Regions from separate parts of the Homo sapiens genome. Here all the other regions are linked to region 1. Evidence: fine-mapped expression QTL. A gene starts in region 1. Each other region holds a variant in brackets. All regions are shown on one strand. Distances are from middle to middle.

Region 1 (2,685 bases):
TCATGCCTCTTGCCCCTCCAATTTTACTCTATTACAGTTACAGTGGCAGGCTCTAATTGAGAATGCCGGAGAAAGTGTTCACTTCTTCCAGTCTTCATCTAAAGTCTCACAAAACTTTTATCTGACAGACCAAGTCAAATGAAGAAGTCCCAGAGCTTTATATGAAAACACTGTTTTGTCCACACCCCCTGCCCTCCTGGCAGTCTACCAATACCTCCATCCACACTCAGCTACCTCCAACTCTGAACAACAGTTTTGTTTTGGAATCATGATTAGGGTGTATATAAACATGCAAGCTTGGGGTCTGCATATTCAGCTGAGAATGTGGGTTAAGATGACTCTTCCCGGGTTCTGAACATCGGTGTCCTTAACAATCCAAGCGCATCGTCAACAAGGCAAACCCAGCACTGGGCCAGGCAAACCAAACCCTCTTCTCCAGCAGGGCCCTCATGTAAACAACAGCCCCAGGCAAAGGGGTTAGCCTGAAGAGGGCTCCTCTCCCTCTGTGGGATAATGCGGGCATTCCTCACATCCCTCCACCTCCTGGGCCCCCCAGACTTCCCCACAGGAAAATCTTGACCCCAAAGTCGTCATTACCACCTCCCCTTTTCCTGGCCACAGAAAGCCAATCTCCGGGCCCAAACGACACCGCACAACCAACTCACACTCCTCTGTCTCACTGGGCCCGCCCTGTTCTCGAGGCCGAATGACCTCCCCAGGACGAAAGGGGACCCTCGAGAGCGGCTTCCAACCCCCAAAAAGCGCGTACAGGGACGACTCTTTCGAGGTCGCGGTGCTGGGGGAGGTTCCTCGGCCGCCAGCGCCTTCCATTCGCCGGGCCCACTCCTGCCCGGCCGCCCCCGGGGCGGCGGGCCTCCCTAGGCCGCGGCTCCCCCCAACTCCCTCACTCGCCGGGGTCTCCGGCCCCGGCAGCCTCACCGGTCACGCAGCCGTTCACGGCGGTGGGCTTCTGGGCCGTTACCACGTAGTTGTACGACATGTCGAGGCTTGGAGCGGCCCGTCGGGACTCGAGCGCGACACTAGAAAGAGGGACACAAGCGAAAAGACAGGTGGCCCCCAACAGCGCGCAGCGAACTCCACTGCCGCTGCCTCCGCCCCAGAGACACGTTGCAGGCCAGAGCGGCCGGGGCGCGGGGCATCACGGGACGGCCTCACCTGGCCTCTTGGAGGACTCCCGAAGCCCGAGGCCGCCAACCGAAGGAGGCCCCGCCCCCGGAGGCACCGCCTCGCCTCTTTCCGCCAGCGCCCGCAGGACCCGGATGAGAGCGCACGCTTCGGGGTCTCCGGGAAGTCGCGGCGCCTTCGGATGTGGCGGATGCGGCCGTGAGCCGGCGGGGGAGGTGCGCCAGTGTCCTCCGAGCTCGCCCGCAGACTCCCCACCCCGTTCCGCGCCCTTTGCCCTTCCCCGCATCCAGTCCTCCTTCCGTTGCTCCAGGAGCCCTCGGGCTGTTCCTCCTTTGGGAACGGGAAGGACTGCGGAGGCATAGAGAGGGAAGGGAGACCGCGATTCGTGCATATCCCAGACTAGAACCTTGCCTGCTTTCCTTTCACTGTCTCAGTTCCTCCAGATCCAGCTGGTGCCCTCGCCTGACGTTTGAACGACCACCTGCTCACCTCCTCCCTTTTGCGCGTTGATTCTTCAGACTTCAAAGGGCCCACCGGTCTGCTTGCCCAACGTTATTAGTGCCCCTATTGCTCTACAAATTCGAACCTCAAACACAAAACCAGTATTTCTCCGTAGGGAACCTTAATGAGCCAGGAGAGCCGTCAGCCCTGCAGCCTCCAGGGTACCCCACATCAAACAGGCTCCCCGGGAACAAGAGGAATACCACGTGGCTTGGCACACTCGCAGAATGCCAGAGAGGAGCCAACCCCCATTTTACAGATGAGGAAGCTGAGGCTTAGGGAGGAATTGGTTTACCTAAGACCCTCCCCACAACCCCAAGTAGGCTGAGGCAGAGCTATGTTGATTCTTCCTATTGTGCACCCACACAGAGGCCAACACGCTGCTGAACCAGGCTGAACTGAGGAAAAGCTAGAAAGTCATCGTGGTTTACATCTTGCCTTTCCCATAGCAGAGACTCTGCCTGACTTTGGAGGCACTGAATTATCAGTAGTAAAAACACACTCTGTAGAAAAACTAGACATTGGTTTAGATTCTGGCTGTTACCTGTATTACCTTGGACAAGTCCCTAGAGCTCTCTGAGTCTGTTTCCCAGAAGTAAAATGGGTCACAAACCTGGCTAGCTCCCCCCATTCCCTTCCCTTTTGGTGCCAAGGCCAGTGAGGGCAAGCGTGTGACGAGCTTTGTTAACTTTTTCGCTGCATGTGATGCCCGTGTAAAAGATAGTTATTCTGAGGATCACTGTCCTTTAGTGATGAAGTGGGTGCTGTTCCTGGACATAAAGGCAGACCTGTGCTTGACATGGATTGATCTGTCTTCTGGCAGTGAAGTGCAGGCATGAACCTTGGTCAGCCCCACACTCTTCTCCATCCGTAGCCCATGTACTAGAGTTTGGACTTGGACCGAAGTCTGGGGCAGCTCCCTAATTACTAGGGTGCTGAAGGCGTGATTGTGCCAGTCGACTGCGAGTTCCTTCCGCAGCTTGTATCGTTACCCACTCCTGCAGGTGCTGCTGCTGCCTCCACTGTACTCAGACCCAG
Region 2 (2,685 bases), 190 kb after region 1:
CTGGGTCAGGTCCACCTTGTTAAGGGGGATGGACACCTCCCCAATGGGGTCGTTGCGGCTGAAGCGGTCATAGTCCAGGACTTGGAGGTAGAGGATCCTCTGCACCACCTTCTCATAGGGAAAACCTGGGGGTATAGATGAGTGTGAGTGAAGAGGGGGACAGAGGGGCTGCACGGGGCCCGGGAGGCAAGGAAGGCCCTGGGAAGAGGAGGCAGGCCCTGTGCCCTCCCGCTGCCACCCCACCGGGCCAGCAGGCACACCGGATTGCAATTAGACCTTACTGAAGTGCTAGCAAGAACTGTCACCGTCTCATGGGATTCCCTCAACAATTCTCCAAGGTGAATGGCATCTCGTCCATCTTACAGATGAGGCTCAGACGGCTTAAAGTACTTGCCCAGACTCCCAGCTAGTAAAGAGTAGAACTGCGATCATCCATTCACCCATGCACCTTGTGTCCATCTCAGTGGCTGAGCAGCCTCTGCCAATCGTCCCGAGGCGGGTCTGGGCAAGTGGCTCTGTCTAGGTGGCCACAGCTGCCAGTACGCAGGCCCCAGGACTCAGGGCAGAGGGACATGGGGAAGCATCGGTGGGAGGGAAAAGGCAAAGGCACAGAAGCAGGAGGTGACAAGTGTCCTGTGACTCCACACCCCTCTCCTCCTGCCTGTGCTTCCATCCTTCCTACCGCAGCGTCCCCTTCTCTACTGCCACCTCCCTCATCCGAGCCGCTGGCACCTCTTGCCTAGGCAGCTGCAAGTGTCTCCAAACCGCCCTCCCCGCATCCACGCTTTCTCCTACCGTCCATTCTCAATGCGGCAGCCAGAGAGACCTTTTAAAAATAGAAATTCCATCATGATATGCTCCTGCTTAAAGCCTTTCAATGGCTCCCAGTGCACTTAGAATAAAAGCCGGGCACCCTACCTTGGCTTCAAGTCCTTCCACAATTTGGCCCGGCTGTCCTCTCCCTGCTTGGCTTGTGACCTCTCTTCACTCAATGACTGGGCTCCAGCCACATCGGCCTCCTTCCTGGCCCTTCAACACCCCGACTCCTCCCGCCTCAGGGCCGGGCGCACACTGGCCCCATCATGACCCCCCTCCTGGCTACTCTCATCCTTCAGGTCTCAGCATTCTTTCCTGGCACCCCAGAGAGTGTCGGATCCCATTATCCGCTCTAGCACCTTTTTTTCCGCAAAACATAACACACGCGGTAATAGATTTCTCTGTCTCTTTCCCTGATTTTTGTCTGGCTCTCCCGGAAGGCAAGGATTCCCACAAAGGCCTCTCTGTTACCAACCACTGGCTCTCGGTGCCTAACACCGCTTCTGGCACATAGTAGGCACTCAATACATATTTGTTAAGTGAATGCATAATTGAACAGATGAATCAATGCCAATGAAATGGCCTGATGGAGCAGCAGGACTGTGCTGAGGTGAGGTGTCCGCTAAGGTCAGAGGGAGAGGAGCAGAAGGGGCTTGGATG[G/A]GATGCAGAAGGGAAGAGGGGGCCAGGTGAAGGTCTGAAGCCAGGAGTCATTAGCTCTTTGGAGGCTTAGTCAGAGGTGGGACTGGCCCAGGAGGTGCCGGGGGGCACAGGCCAGCCTGGAGGCCTGAGGTGAGGAGATTCTGAAACCAGGTATGAGCAGGAAGGAGGACGCCTGGAACCTCAGCCTGGCTGGTGCAGAAGATGAAGGGAAGGAGGAGCTCTAGAAGATTCCAGCACCTTCCCCCAGAGACTCTGGAAGCACCGAGGAGCTCTGACAGGAGCAGGTGAGCTGGAAGAGGAGACTCTGAATTTGTTCAGGGTCCCTTTCCTCATATTGTGGGAAGCTGTGTCTTGCTTATTTCAGAGCCTCCCAGGGACCTTGCCCAGGGGACCCTTGGCATCAATTTAGGTAAAATGCATGAGGACAAGTGTTCTGGGAATATTGGAAGCTCCAAGAGGTCACTGCACCCCAGTCAGCTCTCATCAACACCAGAGGAGGCAGGCTCCTAGCTGGCAAACTCCTACTCATCCATCAGAACCCATTTTGAATGGCCCCTCTTCTGGGAAATGTTCTTCAGCACCACCAAAGGGAGCTCATACTGGCTTCCTGCAGCTCCTGTCATGCTGTGTGTGGCTGAGTTATCTACACATCTGGGTCTCCATTAGGCCAGAAATGCCCTGAGGGCCATAATGGTGCCTCATTCTTTTCTACATCCCCAGTACGTAGAAGAGTGCCCAGCTCATGGCTGTTGCTGGGTACATGCTCGTGGAAGAGACCGGAGGATTGGAGTTCTGCTCAAAAACTTCGCCCTGCCAGCTGCCTACATATACCTCCAGACAGCTGAACCTCTTGCTGGTTGAGCTATCTCTAAACGGGCCCTCATGGTGCCTGCAAAGGAGGGCGTCCAGAAACACATGGACACTCACTGCTCACCCTCAGTGCCATTTAGTGGGTGACCTGGCTGTCATCTTGCAGAAGAGGTGGGGTGCTAAGTGGCTGGGAAGGCAGGTGGGGAAAGGTCCCTGGGGTACACGGTGAAGATTCTGGAAGGCTAGGGCTTGGGGCAGCTGGGGTAGGGATTTACTCTCCCTGGTTGAACCGGGGGCCATTGGCAAAGGGTTACGGTTTGTCTAAGCGGGGTCCTGGCACCCAAAGGCCCTGGGATAGAAATCACTCCTTAATCACACGCCCAGCTTCCTGGTTACCTT
Region 3 (2,685 bases), 85 kb after region 1:
CTTGTTCCTTCTCTCCAGTTTAACAGTCTAAGCCTGTTTATTGTGGAATCCAATAGAAGAACAAGATCACATGGCTTTGGGGGGGTCTTGGAGATAGAAAGATGCCACTGGCAGCAAGTGTGGAGGAAAGAGTGCTCCTTAAACTAGAATATGATAGTTAATCCCAGCTCCTGAGTAAAGCCTAAGGTGGAATCAATTATGTTGACAACCACCTAGATTTCTCTTACAGAACAGTGCCAGTGCTGTCTTGTTCTTCAGGTCTCAAACACATGGCAACTGGCTCTTTCCTAGAGTTCTCTCAAACTGAAGAACAAAAAGGTATAAGGCAAGTGTCATCTGACAGTTAACCACTTTCCCAGCTACTACTGTTGTCACATCTGCAAAGGTTGTTTTGTATCTATGGCTACAAGTCCCAAAAGACGCAACATTTCTATGCAGAGGAAGTCCACCAGCTTTACTTAGTGAATTAACAGAGCCCAGGTCCATCAGCATGACAGAGCAGAAAAACAGCACTCAGTTACACAATCTTTTCAGCAAAAAAAAGTAACATGAAAAGTAGCTGAGTAGAAGTAGAACGTTACCCCCAATACAGTTGTAAAATTACATACCTAAGGAAAGTCAGGGGTGAATTACAGAAAGACTCCAAAACAGAGGGGACTTGAAAATACAACTTGTCAAGGAAGAAGAGTGTGTCCTTTCTAACATGGAACAACAAGAGTTCACACCAAATCTATCTAGGCTGTCAATCTAGTTAAAAGAACAGCTGTTCCTATGCAAGAGCAAAGTGGTCCTATTTCTACCTGGAGGATACACCCAATCAATACAAGGCACTATTTTGAGAGCTGGACCTAAGCAGTGACAGAACATCAGTGATGAAACTTTGCTGTTCCTCCCACTGTAGCAAAAGAAAATAAGGGTGGTTGGCTGTCTCAGGGAAGGTCTTGCAGGGTGGCTGCACTTTATGAGGTCAGGAAAATCCAAGGTCTAGTCCTCAGGTTTCTCAGGTTCAGAAACTTGCTTCAACTGGGGTGACTAGGCCCTAGGAGACTGATTCATGCTAACCAAACTCACAAGAGACTGATTCATAAACCATAACACCAATTTATTAATTTACAATGAGAAATGTAATTGCCAAGCAGACCAGAATACTTGTGTCGGCTGGTCAGCGAATTCTCTTCCTAGTAGGAGACCCTAATTGGGAAACCAAATTAGCATCAGAAAGTGGCTTAGTGAGTACAGTCAGAATAAAGAGAGTAAGATGGACATTGGGGAAACTGTCCTCAAACTAAGGTAGTTCTGAGGTAACTTTCTTTTTTCTTTTTTTTTTTTGAGACAGAGTCTCACTCTGTCACCCAGGCTGGAAGGCAGTGGTGCAATCTCAGGTCACTGCAACCTCCACCTCCTGGATTCAAGAGATTCACCTGCCTCAGACTCCC[G/A]AGTAGCTGAGATTATAAGCATGTGCCACCATAACTGGTTAAGTTTTGTATTTTTAGTAAAGACAGGGTTTTGCCATGTTGCCCAGGCTGGTCTCGAACTCCTGACCTCAGGTATCTGCCCGCCTCAGCCTTCCAAAGCACTGGGATTACAGGTGTGAGCCACCATGCCCAGCCCCTAACTTTTTTATTTTCCCTCCAAGATGGAGTCTTGCTCTGTTGCCCAGGCTGGAGTGCAGTGGTCTGATCTCAGCTCACAGCAACCTCCGTCTCCCGGGGTCAAGCAATTCTCCTGCCTCAGTCTCCCGTGTAGCTGGGATTACAGGCATGTGTCACCCACACCCGGCTAATTTTTGTATTCTTAGTAGAGATGGGGTTTCACCATGTTGGCCAGGCTGGTCTCAAACTCTTGACCTCGTGATCCACCCACCTCGGCCTCTCAAAGTGCTGGGATTATAGGCGTGAGCCACCGCGCCCGGCCTGTAACTTTCTTTACTAATGGGATATAACTGCCAAGCAGACTAAAACATTTGGTAATCAAAAGAGCACCCTCTCCCCTGGACAATGCTGGAGAAATATTGTTCAAGTCTTATTCTCCAACACTCCTCTTGGTTGATTCCTTACAGTATCCTTCCAATCAACGTTTATGAAAAGATTATAGGCACCTTTTAGTTACATTTTAGGGTGGCTGCTTCTTGATAATTTATAGAGAGGCATGTCTTAAAAATTAAGCCCATTCACCTAATGCCAAGTTTTAGACAGAAACACAGAATTTAGAGGTGATGGAACTTTAAACATCATGTCACTAGTCCAGATGGGGAAACAGGCCCTAAGTAGTAAAGTGACTTGGCCAAGGTCACACGAGTCAGTGGCAGAACCAAACTACAACCTGAACCTACTTGACTCCCAGCACAATGCTCTTTCTTCTATATAGACCTATTCTGAGGACTACTTGTCGACCATGACACCACTCACAACCACCATCACCCTCCCCCAAACTCACCCACACTGTAGGCTAAGCCTACACCATAGAAAACAAACCCACAAACACCCCCCCCTCATACAGATGGTCTCCACGTACCCCCTCTTGGGACTCGGACACACTCACGTTTCCGAGCCTGTGCCTCAAACTGTGACAGGTTCTGCCGGGTGGCCGGCCTCACGTCCACTTTTTCTCCATTAAGAACTTTCCCTGGTAGGAGTTCCAACAATTTGTGGACAGAGTTTTCAGAGGCTACCACCACCTCAGCAT
Region 4 (2,685 bases), 42 kb after region 1:
TTGGGTGATCCACCTGTCTCAGCCTCCCAAAGTACTGGGATTACAGGTACGAGCCACTGCCACTGGCCCTGGAAACTCCTATAATTCTGATATGACTTAATGTACATTATCGGTAATAATTATAACTGTTATGTTAAATTATTATGTGCCACAGAGGTAACAAATTTCCTTGTCAGTTTTGTCTTTGACTATAGCTGCCCTAAAACATTTTGTCATCCATGGACAATTGTTGTTTTGCTTTGGTCCTCTTTAGAAGGTGGTTTTATAATCAGCTATAAAACTCTAGGCCAGGCGTGGTGACTCACACCTGTAATTCCAGCACTTTGGGAGGCCAAGGTGGGCAGATCATGATGTCAGGAGATTGAGAACCATCCTGGCCAACAAGGTGAAACCCTGTCTCTACTAAAAATACAAAAATTAGCTGGGCGTGGTGGCAGGTGCCTGTAATCCCAGCTATTCAGCTACTCAGGAGGCTGAGGCAGGAGAATTGCTTGAACCTGGGAGGCGGAGGCTGCAGTGAGCTGAGATCGCGCCACTGAACTTCAGCCTGGTGTCAGAGCTAGACTCCATCTCAAAAACAAACAAACAAACAAACAAACTCTAATAGGTGCCCCTGAATAAGGTTTCTGATAACTTTAGAGACTGTCACATCAGAATAGAGGAAAAACTTTCACGACTCATGGAGAACTGAAATGTTCATGAAAAATGAAGCAGAACAGGAATTAATTGCATGGACTAAACTAATAGGTGTCTGAAGTGATCTTTTTAACTTTACACTTAAAATGTTGCTGATCCTGTGTTTTGTTTTTCAGAGTCAAGAAAACTTTTAAGCTATTTATAGCTTTAACAATTGAGTATACTCCTATGAACAAAATTTGCAGCATATTTGTTTTTCTCTGATTTCTCCAGAATTTGGAGATTATTTGTGAGTATTCTTTTTTTTTTTTTTTTTTTTTTGAGATGGAGTTTCACTCTTTTTGCCCAGGCTGGAGTGCAGTGGTGTGATCTCAGCTCACCACAACCTCTGACTCGCAGGTTCAAACCATTCTCCTGCCTCAGCCTCCCAAGTAGCTGGGACTACAGGCATG[C/T]GCCACCATGCCTGGCTAATTTTTGTATTTTTAGTAGAGATGGTGTTTCACTATGTTGGCCAGGCTGGTCTCAAACTCCTGACCTCAGGCGATCCACCCACCTCAGCCTCCCAAAGTGCTGGGATTACAGGCATTAGCCACTCCACCCAGCTGTGAGTATTCTTAACTTATGACAATACTGTTATTTGCATAAGTGCAATAAGAATCTGTTTTCGTTTGTAACAGGACACAATTGGAGAAACTGGTTATTTTACCAAGGCTTTTACTGGAATGGTGTGCTTTCCTTTAAGCAATCAAATTTGACTTTATGGAGCCAATAAAAGCCCCTTGGAAAAACTGGCCCCATACCTTTGTCCACACAGCCGCTGTCCAAGGTTTCTGACCTGTGGCAAGTAAAGCACGTCACTTTCTGACAGGCCCAGGAGTCCCAAGTTTATCTTGGAACCTCAAGAGGAGAGGATCATGCAATTCATAGGTATTTGATGGCACAAATCCACGGCTGGGCTCGGCTTTTAAAAAGTCTTATCTGAGATTCTTTCTATGGAACAAAGTTTCATCAAAGCCAATTTAAAAGCCTATGTAAAAAATAATTATTCGGCCAGATGCGGTAGCTCATGCCTATAATCCTAGCACTTTGAGAGGCCAAGGCAGGCGGATCACCTGAGGTCAGGAATTCAACACCAGCCTGGCCAACATGGTGAAACCCCATCCCTACTAAAAATACAAAATGTAGCCAGGTGTGATGGTGCATGCCTGTAATTCCAGCTACTCAGGAGGCTGAGGTGGGATAATCACTTGAACCCAGGAGGTGGAGGTTGCAGTGAACTGAGATCACGCCACTGCACTCCAGCCTGGATGACAGAGCAAGACTCTGTCTCAAAAAAAAAAATAATGGAAAACTGGAAAGAGAAAAATTGTTTCAAAAACTATAGCACACCTGTTGTTAGATTCTTGTCTTGCCTAATGTTTTTCAATTTTATTATTTTCTACAGTTTGGACCGAATTCTAATTTTTCTTGACTACAAGTCTTCAAAATAATGTTTTCATTTTTTTCTTCTTTTTTCCATTTTTTTCCAATTTGGAGTCACTGAAAACTAAGCTGTGCTTTCATAAAGCCCTGCAAACTGAATCTAGACAACTTCAGAAGAAAAATAACAGCAACCTATTTACATACATAAGCCACTTTCATACCTGCCTACCGATGTATGGACTTCAGAGTAATGTGGCTTATAGCAATTTTCCAGGATTGTTCTTTTGTTTGTTGTTGTTCTCCCTTCCTCCCCCTATTTTGTCTTTATGGGACATGACACTTCACAACCTTCTAAAAATGAGTTTTCCTAATAACTCAGGACCTACTCGTCTAGAAATAAACCATCCTAGCCATGAGAGATAAGATAAAACATGAGACAAGAGACTCATTTTTTTCTAAAATGCTTTCTCTAAAAGATTTTTAAAAAGAAAGGGGAGGAAATGTGAAAGGAAAATATCTTGGGCCCCCAAATCACTCAGCTAAAGGCAAAAGTCAAGCTGGGAACTGCTTGGGGCAAGCTTGCCTCCCATTCTAATCAAAGTCACTGCTCTGCTCACTGAGACAAAT

Evidence for each region. PIP is the estimated chance that this variant, and not a neighbour inherited with it, causes the effect.
Region 2: its variant is the best candidate, but not a certain one, in a credible set for the expression of TKFC in whole blood (TOPMed, PIP 0.88).
Region 3: its variant is the best candidate, but not a certain one, in a credible set for the expression of TKFC in whole blood (INTERVAL, PIP 0.67).
Region 4: its variant is the best candidate, but not a certain one, in a credible set for the expression of TKFC in whole blood (TOPMed, PIP 0.81).

Annotation. Positions count from the first base shown.
Region 1 is chr11:61,331,969-61,334,653 of GRCh38, forward strand. TKFC (triokinase and FMN cyclase) reads left to right here and starts at 1,260. Exons shown (of 18, transcript NM_015533.4): 1 at 1,260-1,361; 2 at 2,652-2,685. It overlaps DDB1 (damage specific DNA binding protein 1), which reads right to left and starts at 1,137. Exons shown (of 27, transcript NM_001923.5): 1 at 940-1,137. The coding sequence starts at 1,000. RefSeq lists enhancers at 699-1,221, 1,222-1,744 and a silencer at 1,140-1,399.
Region 2 is chr11:61,524,408-61,527,092 of GRCh38, forward strand. It overlaps SYT7 (synaptotagmin 7), which reads right to left. Exons shown (of 13, transcript NM_001365809.2): 10 at 1-125. Among named protein-coding and RNA genes, the nearest start is that of LRRC10B, 17 kb to the left of the region's middle. The variant G/A (reference allele first, on the strand shown) is at 1,477.
Region 3 is chr11:61,417,408-61,420,092 of GRCh38, forward strand. CPSF7 (cleavage and polyadenylation specific factor 7) reads right to left here. Exons shown (of 10, transcript NM_001142565.3): 5 at 2,542-2,685. Among named protein-coding and RNA genes, the nearest start is that of CPSF7, 11 kb to the right of the region's middle. The variant G/A (reference allele first, on the strand shown) is at 1,437.
Region 4 is chr11:61,374,383-61,377,067 of GRCh38, forward strand. It overlaps a transcript of TMEM138 not described here. Among named protein-coding and RNA genes, the nearest start is that of TMEM138, 13 kb to the left of the region's middle. The variant C/T (reference allele first, on the strand shown) is at 1,089.